Linked DNA regions of Homo sapiens: region 1 is linked to region 2. The links come from fine-mapping of genetic effects on plasma protein levels. A gene starts in region 2. The other region holds a variant in brackets. All regions are shown on one strand. Distances are from middle to middle. Region 1 has its middle 4.9 kb from the start of LINC01143. Region 2 holds the start of CD207 (CD207 molecule).

Evidence for each region. PIP is the chance, under the fine-mapping model, that this variant and not a neighbour inherited with it causes the effect. Protein levels are from antibody-based Olink assays in UK Biobank. Linkage for the fine-mapping came from a reference panel and not from the study's own genotypes, which makes the PIPs less certain.
Region 1: its variant is fine-mapped to the plasma level of the CD207 protein (UK Biobank, PIP above 0.99).

The regions. Positions count from the first base shown.
Region 1 is chr2:70,880,264-70,885,651 of GRCh38, reverse strand. No RefSeq gene overlaps it. Among named protein-coding and RNA genes, the nearest start is that of LINC01143, 4.9 kb to the left of the region's middle. The variant G/A (reference allele first, on the strand shown) is at 2,737.
Region 2 is chr2:70,833,639-70,839,026 of GRCh38, reverse strand. It overlaps CD207 (CD207 molecule), which reads left to right and starts at 3,211. Exons shown (of 6, transcript NM_015717.5): 1 at 3,211-3,323; 2 at 3,420-3,536; 3 at 5,007-5,381. The coding sequence starts at 3,251.

The DNA.
Region 1 (5,388 bases), 47 kb before region 2:
AGTCTGTTTTAAAAATAGTGTATTTAGGCCGGGCACGGTGGCTCATGCCTGTAATCCCAGCACTTTGGGAGGCCGAGGTGGGCCGAGGTGGGCCGATCACCTGAGGTCAGGAGATCACCAGCCTGGCCAACATGGTGAAACCCCGTTTCTACTAAAAATACAAAAATTAGCTGGGCGTGGTGGCTAGCGCCTGTAATCCCAGCTACTCCGGAGGCTGAGGCTGGAGAATCGCTTGAACCCGGGAGGCGGACGTTGCAGTGAGCCGAGATCGCACCATTGCGCTCCAGCTTGGGCGAAAAGAGTGAAGCTCCGTTTAAAAAAAAAATTGTGTGTTTAATCTTTTTAGACTGAGCACTCACGCACTCACATTCTCCTCCCTGAATTTCACAACCCCCTCCTCCAAACCACTGGGTTGTATTTGCTGTTAGTCTTTGTTGTCATATATTCTCACAAAATAAGCTCTTTTTTTTGGTGTGCGTTTTTATTGTATGTACATGGTATTGAGTTTTATATTTCATTTTAAATATTATTTAAAATTGTTAAAAACAATTTCAAATTTATGGGAAAGTTGCAAGAATATTACAAAACTCTAGTATTGTCTTTAAGCTGCAATTGCATTATCATTCTCTTTTAAAATTATTTTTATGGAAGCATTTGAGGATAAGTTGCAGACACCATGCCGTTTTACTATTAAATACTTTCGCGTGCATTTCCTGAGGGCCATCACCTACATGCCACATTGCAGTGATTAAAATTAGGAATCTTAACATTGATATATAATCTTCAGATCTTATTCAAATTTCATCAATTGTCCCAATAATATCCTTTATAATATTATTATTTTTTTCTGGTCCCAGATTTAATTCAATATTACCCATTGCATTTAGTTTTTAAGTTCTTGTTAGCCTCCTTTACCTGGAAACAGTTTATCAGCTTTTTTTGTGTATGTTTGTAACAGATATTTTTGAAGAATATGGACCAGTTAGTTAGATTGTATATATTGGAGTTCCTTGTTTTATTTTGAACAGTCTGAAACTTACAGAGAAATTGTCAAGAGCATTACAAAGAAACCCCCTCCTCCACTTACCTGTTTGAACTCAAGTTGCTGACATAATGCTTTATTTTGTATTTCTAACAAACAAGGACATTCTCCCTTGAAATCGCAATGCAATCATCAAAATTAGAAAATTAATGCTATCACAATTGACTCCTCAGACCCCCTTGTCAATGGTTCTGCAAATGTCCTTTATTATCAAAAGGATGCAGTAAAGATGTATTGCAGTCAGTTGTCACGTCTCTTTAGTCTCCTTCAATCTGTGACAGTTAGTTCCAGTCTTTGACTTTCACGGCCAGTTATTATGTAGAAAGCCCCTCGGTGTGGATTTATCTCATGTTTCCTCACAATTCAATTCAGACTATGCATCTTTGGCAGGAATATCACAGAAGTGATATTGAATTCTTCTCATTGTGTCCTATCAGATGGTACATGATTTTGATATATCCTGTACTGGTGATGTTAACTTTGATCATTTGAGTGAGAATTAAGTTTCTCCCTGTAAGGTTATTTTTCCCTTTGCATTTAATAAGTATTTTGCAGGGAGGAACTTTTAGACTATCTATATATCCTGCCCCTCATCAAGCTCTTTGTGCATTGTTTAGATCAATATCAACAAATGGATTCCTAATGTATTCAATAGGCTATATTTTGTTACTATATTATTTATTTAATTTGTGAATTGTCCCAAATGTCCTTTTTTGGGGGTAATAGCTTTATTGAGATATCATTCATGTATCATACACTTCACCTATTTAAAATACACTGTGTAATGTTTTTTAATATGTATATTCACAGAGTTGTACAACCACTCCTATAATCAATTTTAGAACATTTTCATCATCCCCAAAAGAAATCCCATTCCTGTTAGCTTTCACCTCCCAATTCTCCCATCCCTGCCAGCCCTAGGTAACTATCTACATTGTGTCTCTATAGATTTGCCTATTCTGAACATATCATATAAATGGAATTGTTCAATATATGGTCTTTTGTGACTGACTTCTTTCCCTTACCATAATGTTTTCAAGGTTCATCCGTATTGTAGCATAAATCAGTACTTCATTTTTAATGGATGAATAATTCCATTGTATGGACATACCACAGTTTATCTATTCGTCAGTTGATGGACATTTGGGTTGTTTCCACTGTTTAGCTATTATGAATACATCCTGCTGTGAATGTTCTTGGAGAAGTTTTCGGTGGCCATATATTTTCATATCTCTTGGGTACATACCTAGGAGTGGAATTGCTAGGTCAAACAACTAATTCTATCTTTAAATTTTTGAGGACCTACCGCACTGTCTTCCAAAGTGGCTGTCCCATTTTACATTTTCCCCTAGCAATGAATAAGAATTCCAATTGTTCCACATCCTTGGCAACACTTGTTATTGTCTGTTTTTTCAATTATAGCCATCCTAGTGGATGTGACTTTGTATTTCAATGTGGTTCTTATTTGCATTTCCCTGATGACTAATGATGTTGTCTATCTTTTCATGTGTTTCTTGGCCATTTGTATATCTTCTGTAAAGAAATATCTATTTATGTCCTTTGCTCTTTTTCACATTGGGTTATTTGTTTTTATATTATTGAGTTTTATTATTTATTATTTATATTTTTAAGGTAGAGTCCTCTAGTTGCACAGGTTGGAGTGCAGTGGTGCAATCATAGCTCTCTGCAGCCTC[G/A]AAATCCTGGGCTCAAGTGATCCTCTCACCTCAGCCTCCTGAGGAGCCAGGACTACTGGTGTGCACCACCATGCCCAGTTAATTTCCCATTTTTTGTAGAGACAGAGTCCTCCTATATTGCCCAGGCTGGAAGAGCTTTTTCTAGTTTTCTTCTTTTCTGTATTTATGCTACCTTCTCGAACAGTGAGAAATCTGTCTCCTATTTTCCTCAGTATGTATATTTGATCAGTTTCCTGGTGTGTAACGAGTTTCCTGTGGCTGCATTGCCTCTCTGTGCCCCACCCCCACTGAGGAGACTCTGCTCACCCCACTGTGGCTGAGGTATCTGATGCTGACACTGTGTGGATGTCTCCCTGCTTGGATCCCAACACACCCATGCGGATTCACCATGGCAGACACTCTCCCTTATGGGGATGCTTACCTTGCTTGGCCCTACCTAATGGCTTTTGGATGACATTTTCAGGAAGGGAAGAGCAACTATATATATATATAAAAAATTGTATTTTTTTTGCCACATCAATTGACTCTTTTTTTTATGAGAGATTTCTCTGTAGCATGAGATGCTGTTTGACAGCATTTTACCCACGATAGAACTTCTTTCAAAATTGGAATCAGTTTTCTCAAACTCTGCTGCTGCTTTATCAACTAAGTGTATGTAATATTCTAAACCCTTTGTTGCCATTGCAAATAATGTTCACAACATCTTCACTGGAAGTAGATTCCATCTCAAGAAACCACTTTCTTTGCTCAACCATAAGAAGCAACTCCTCATTCATTCAAGTTTTATCATGAGATTGCAGCAATTCAGTCGCATCTTCAGGCTTCACTTCTTTTTTCTTTTTTATACTTTAAGTTCTAGGTACATATGCATAACATGCAGGTTTGATACATAGGTATACATGTACCATGTTGGTTTGCTGCACCCATCAACTCATCATTTACATTAGGTATTTCTTCTAATGCTATCCCTTCCCCAACCCCCCACCCCCTGAGAGGCCCCGGTGTGTGATGTTCCCCACCCTGTGTCCAAGTGATCTCGTTGTTCAATTCCCACCTATGAGTGAGAAAATGCAGTGTTTGGTTTTCTGTCCTTGTGATAGTTTGCTGAGAATGATGGTTTCCAGCTTCATCCATGTCCCTGCAAAGGACATGAACTCATCCTTTTTTTATGGCTGCATAGTATTCTGTGGTGTATATGTGCCACATTTTCTTAATCCAGTCTATCATTGATGGACATTTGGGTTGGTTCCAAGTCTTTGCTGTTGAATAGTGTTGCAATAAACATACGTGTGCATGTGTCTTTATAGCAGCATGATTTATAATCCTTTGGGTATATACTCAGTAATGGGATCGCTGGGTCAAATGGTAACTCTAGTTCTAGATCCTTGAGGAATTGCCACACTGTCTTCCACAATGGTTGAACTAATTTACACTCCCACCAACAGTATAAAAGCATTCCTATTTCTCCACATCCTCTCCAGCATCTGTTGTTTCCTGACTTTTTAATGATTGCCATTCTAACTGGCATGAGATGGTATCTCATTGTGGTTTTGATTTGCATTTCTCTAATGACCAGTGATGACGAGCATTTTTTCATGTGTCTGTTGGTTGCATAGATGTCTTCTTTTGAGAAGTGTCTGTTCATGTCCTTTGCCCACTTTTTGATGGGATTGTTTGTTTTTTTCTTGTAAATTTGTTTGAGTTCTTTGTAGATTCTGGATATTAGCCCTTTGTCAGATGGGTAGATTGCAAAAATTTTCTCCCATTCTGTAGGTTGGCTGTTCACTCTGATGGTAGTTTCTTTTGCTGTGCAGAAGCTCTTTAGTTTAATCAGATCCCATTTGTCTATTTTGGCTTTTGTTGCCATTGCTTTTGGTGTTTTAGTCATGAAGTCCTTGCCCATGCCTATGTCCTGAATGGTATTGCCTAGGTTTTCTTCTAGGGTGTTTATGATTTTAAGTCTAACATTTAAGTCTTTACTCCATCTTGAGTTAATTTTTGTGTAAGGTGTAAGGAAGGGATCCAGTTTCAGCTTTCTACATATGGCTAACCTGTTTTCCCAGCACCATTTATTAAATAGGGAATCCTTTCCCCATTTCTTGTTTTTGTCAAAGATCAAATAGTTGTAGATGTGTGGTGTTATTTCTAAGGGCTCTGTTCTGTTCCATTGGTCTATATGTCTGTTTTGGTACCAGTACCGTGCTGTTTTGGTTACTGTAGGCTTGTAGTGCAGTTTAAAGTCAGGTAGCATGATGCCTCCAGCTTTGTTCTTTTTGCTTAGGATTGTCTTGTCAATGCAGGCTCTTTTTTGGTTCCATAAGAACTTTAAAGCAGTTTTTTCCAATTCCCTGAAGAAAGTCATTTGTAGCTTCATGGGGATGGCATTGAATCTATGAATTACTTTGGGTAGTATGGCCATTTTCATGATATTGATTCTTCCTATCCATTAGCATGGAATATTCTTTCATTTGTTTGTGTCCTCTTTTATTTCATTGAGCTGTGGTTTGTAGTTCTCCTTGAAGAGGTCCTTCACATCCCTTGTAAGTTGGATTCCTAGGAATTTTATTCTCTTTGCAGCAATTGTGAATGGGAGTTCACTCATGATTTGGCTCTCTGTTTGTCTGTTAATGGTGTAGAGGAATGCCTGTGGTT
Region 2 (5,388 bases):
GACTTGACTGAGGGACTTGGGTGACTCCTCCCTGGAGATGACTCTTGGCACTGCTGGAGCATTTCATACAACCCAGGTCTCTGTTCCAGTCTTGTTGATTAAACCCATGGTTCTCCTCCAAGCATAAGGCTGGGCCCAACCATAGTCTCAACCAGAGAAAGGGAAAAAGTGACCAAGCTGTTTTCTTCCTCCATCCTTATCCAGAGAAAATATTAGAACCCCAGGAACACAGGAAGAGGAGAAACTAAAAAAATGAGCACAGACTTCCCGTTCTCATCACAGCGGTGATTTTTTTGGTCACTAGGTCTGGCCAGAGTTCCTCTTCTGTTTGGAAGAGCAGGGCATTGTCTGAGTGCCCGGGAGAACTGCCCACCTTCCTGACTGGAAAGTGTGGCCAAGGCACCTGCCTGCTTCTCTGTCTTTTCTCCTGCCAGGCCAGGTGCCAGATAGAGCATCCAGAGGTTTGCACAGGAGAGGTGCTCAGGAAAGACCTGTAGATGAGCATGATAATAGGAAGATGGCTTCTGACTCCCTCCCTCTCCACAAAGTGGGAAATGAAACTTCCTATGGTTTGGGACTTTTACATCCACCTCCTCTGAAACCCCAGAAGGCCCACAGCCCAGGATTCCATGCCTTTGCTCAGCTTCCTCATGCTGGAACAGCCTTTCGCCTAGCGGTAGCTATTCTACCTACCTCAGCCTGCATTTCCATCACTTGGAGTAAATGCTCCCTGCTCCAGCCCCTTCCTATGCCATGGGCCCAGCCGCTAAGGCTTCCTCATCCTTTCCTGGGACCAATGAGAGGGCATCTGGGGGGCTCTATAAAGTATAACTCATACCACAAACCAGCAGAGAAAACCCAACTTCCTGACCGAGCGGAAATGGACAAGACACTTCCCAGGCACACTGTGTGGCGGCTTCTTTCCCGCAAATGCCTCAGGAGGAGACATGGACCCCTGCAAGGCCCCTTCTACCAGGGTCTTGAGTAATTTGGATTCTTCTCTATCCCCAGGCCCAGAAATAGGACAGGCTATGGATGAAGGGCCAGGAGCCAGGAGCAGAAGGGCAGAGATGATTCTGGAGTTAGGCTGGGTCCCAAGCATGAGAGTCCAGAAGTGGAACATTCTAATCCTGTCTAAGCCCTGATGGAACCAAGGCTCTGCAACCACACGAGCCACCTGAAGAGAGTAGGAATCTTCATGGACACCCAGAGGCAGGCAGTGATGTGGAGCCAGGCCCTCATATTCGGGACTATCAAATGTTAAAATTTAGAGCAGACAGCAGGCCTGGAAGTTACAGACAGGCTGGGTAGGGAAGCGATGGGACAGAACAAATGAGACACCATCTTTGCTACCCAGTTTCCTTCCCAGAGCTTCCCAGTGTGGGGTCCTCTCTGGGTTCCCTCATCCAGTCCGAGAAGCCACTCCAGCCTGAGGCCCGGTTAGCTGGAGAGAGAGCATCAAGGGCCTGTAACTACAATGAGCTGCACATAGGCATGGGCTGAGCGTGCAGCCACTATCCTCCCAAGTACCAAAGGTGGCAGTAGCCCCTGAAAGCATAGGTAGATATTTCCTTGGCCCTGTTAACTTAACCTCTAATCCTGGTCCCTGATACAGGCTGTCATCCAGCTCCACTGGCTCAGCCTCAGCAGGCCCAGGACAGCTTTCTTTTCCTGCGGCCAGAGCTTTTGTTCATTCCTGGGTAAGGAGTAAATCACACTTCCCCTTATGCTTTTGCATTGAAGATGAATGAGAACTTCTGGAGACAGTGGAAAAAAGCAGCAGCTTCTAGAAGGCAGATCCCAGGCCCCAGACTGTGTAAATGTCTGAGTGGCATGATCAGCTATCAAGTCTCCAAGTCACTTACCATTCACACATCCATCCATGCATCCTCTATCCATCCATTCATCCATTCACCCATCCTCCAATTATCTGGACCAATTTCCTTCTTTTTTCTTTCCTTCCCTCCCTCTTTCCTCTCCTCTTTCCTATATTCCAAGAAATATTTGTCTAGAGTCTGCCATGTGCCAAATTTCTCAGATTTGGCAGACTTCTTCAAAGCATGAGAAGCCGCCCAGGAGAAAATTTAGTCCTTCATTGAGCCCAAATCAGCTCTTCTGTGCCCTGAGCTTCTTGCACATATGGAACTCTCTATTTAGGACTACAAAGAAGGAGAGAGGAGGTGCGGACAGAGAGAGAGGAGAGAGAAACAGAACGATTCCTAGTCTGAGGTTGCTGAGCGCCCCTACTTTTTTTGAAAATCTCACATGGTGCAGGAAGCAGGGAGGAGAACCCAAGTCTTAGGTTTACACTTTGAATCTCCAAGTTGCATATTATAAAGGGATATTGTATCAGCCAAGATGCATTAATAACAGGAAGCAGGATATTCTATTGCAATGGTTGCCTATTTGGTATCTCTGCTTCCAGGCTTCTCCCCACCAGTCTGCTCCTCACCAGGATCAGAGTGATGTTTCTACAGTGTCCCTGTCCTTGTCTCTCTCCTGCCTGAAGTCCTTAATTGGCCCCATGTCACCCACAAGCCAGAGGTCCAGCTCCTTGACATGATCAGAAGGATCTTCATCATCAGACCCCAGGTGCCTCTTCAACCCCGTGTGCATCCCCTTCCTGTTGGAATGTATATTTTACATTCCAGCAATATTGCAACTATTTACAATTTGCCAAGCACTCCATGCTATCTTATGCTCCATCCTTTGGCATATGCTTATCTTTCTACTGGATTTTTTTTTTTCCCATTACTCCATTTCATATGCTTCTTTGAACTGGGCATATTTGTCTCTTGTGCTCATCACCTTGCAATTTATTTGCTCATGTCTGTCTTTCCTACCAGACTATGAGCTGCTTGGTGCAAGGACTGCGAGTTATTCATCACTGTGGCCCTATGCCTGGTAGAGCATCAGTACCTAGAAGGCACTCAGCCTGTATTTGTGGGGTGAATGGATGGGTGGATGGATGACGAGAGTCTTACAAGAGAAATGGGATAGGTTTGGGACAAGATGGTTAATGTATCCATGTAACAGACCCCCAGAGAAGACAACAAATGGCCTCTTCCTGAAAGCTCAGACTTCTGAGGATGGGAGTAAGCCAGACAAGGTATCTAGTCAGGAATAGGGAAGTTGGGATGATATGGTGACCTGCTGTGGGACTGACTTCCTGTTTCCTCTAGATAAGAGCCCTTGGAGAGACAGGCAGCCAGAAGCACCTGTGCTCCCAGGATAAGGGTGAGCACTCAGGATGACTGTGGAGAAGGAGGCCCCTGATGCGCACTTCACTGTGGACAAACAGAACATCTCCCTCTGGCCCCGAGGCAAGCCACATCGCTGCTGAGAACCTGCTCCGTGTTCTGTGTGCAAACCTGCCCTTTGCTGCTCCTTCAACACACATTTTCTTCTTCTTCCAACAGAGCCTCCTCCCAAGTCCGGTCCATCTCTGGTCCCGGGGAAAACACCCACAGTCCGTGCTGCATTAATCTGCCTGACGCTGGTCCTGGTCGCCTCCGTCCTGCTGCAGGCCGTCCTTTGTAAGTCCTCATGTTTCATCGTCTGGGCTTAGCCCCTCTCTGTGGCCAGCCGGCTCCCTTCAGATCGAGACCACTTCCCTGCTCTCCGGGTTTCTCCTGCCTGTGGCTTTTTCATTTGTCTCCTTCCTCCTCTTTCCATGTGCAGTAACAGGCTGTGCTGCCCCCAGTACGGTGAGCTGATGCTCTTTCCCTCCCAATTTCTGGGAGATTATTGGGATTAGCATTTGCACATTGGTGCTCAAGGATACATTCTTTTGTCCTCAGGAAACATTGATCTAGTTTTACATCCTGTGCTATTTTCTCCCCGTCCACCCCCCACCAATCTGAGCTCTGCTCCTTGGATCTAGAGCCTTGTGGACAGTCCTTGACAGTGCAATGTCTCCTGACCCTGTGAAGGACCGAGCCTCATGTATCATTGGCCCCAGCTCACCAGATGGAGAGCCTGGCCAACGAGCCAACAGATCTCCATGACTCAGTCCCCTCTCCCCAGGACTCGTTGGTGCTGTCTTCATTCTCCTGTCCCTGTGAAGATCACATCTAGGGAGGCTTCCTGCTCATTTGATGTTGCATGGTTTATCTTTCTTCCTTTTCTGGCTCTGTCAGGCTTCATGGCCTTTGCTGCTGGCAGAGCCTTCTTCCTCCTGCCAGGGCTCCAGGAAGCAGAGCAAAGGGACCCAAGAAGCTGTTGGGTTTTTTTTTCTCCCTCTGTGGCCTCGGGACATATTTGGGCTTAGACTTGTAGGCTCTGAGCAGAGTCCCCCTTGCCCCATCCTAGACCCCTGGCCTCTAACATCGCATTTTCCTCAGGGCTCGCCTTTGAGCCTCTTGGTTTATCTTTGATCCTCTCTCTGGTACCCAGGCCTGGGACCTGAGCAGAATGTGAAAGTGGGTGGGGCAAGGGAAGGGGAGAAACAGTTTTGTAATCTCCTCTTCCATGTTCTCTGGAGAAGCCACTTCCAGATTAGTGGCTGGTTCTTCCCATGGTCACAGAGGGGCCCATGGACAGATGTGGGGGAGTGGTGCTGTCCTAGCAGATGGCCACTGCAGGGGTTTCTGAAAACAGAGGGATGGCAACCAAGGGGTGGGGTCTAGGGGGAATCAAGTTCTGGGGACAGTGGTGGGGCTCATGGAGGGCACCCTTTATCAAATGTTCCCTGAACACTCAGAAAATTCAGGAATGGTTTCTAACTCCTGCTTCTGCTTGCCTGTGAAATCTTTTCACAGAGAGCCTGTGTTTTATCAATCTCCCCATTATCTGTATCCACCTGTGTTCCTGGCACATGGTAGGTGCCCATTGCACGTTTGTTGTACGTTAATGAATGATTGGAGGGTTGGGGTGGCCCATTGGACTGTCTTGGTTCTTTGGGAAGCTTCAGCCTATTCCTTCCCTTCCTTTGATCAACCTGACAACACCCCCACTCCTGTCCCTGGGACTCCCCTCAGCTGACCTCCTGACTTTCTCAATCCCAGATCCCCGGTTTATGGGCACCATATCAGATGTAAAGACCAATGTCCAGTTGCTGAAAGGTCGTGTGGACAACATCAGCACCCTGGATTCTGAAATTAAAAAGAATAGTGACGGCATGGAGGCAGCTGGCGTTCAGATCCAGATGGTGAATGAGAGCCTGGGTTATGTGCGTTCTCAGTTCCTGAAGTTAAAAACCAGTGTGGAGAAGGCCAACGCACAGATCCAGATCTTAACAAGAAGTTGGGAAGAAGTCAGTACCTTAAATGCCCAAATCCCAGAGTTAAAAAGTGATTTGGAGAAAGCCAGTGCTTTAAATACAAAGATCCGGGCACTCCAGGGCAGCTTGGAGAATATGAGCAAGTTGCTCAAACGACAAAGTAAGTG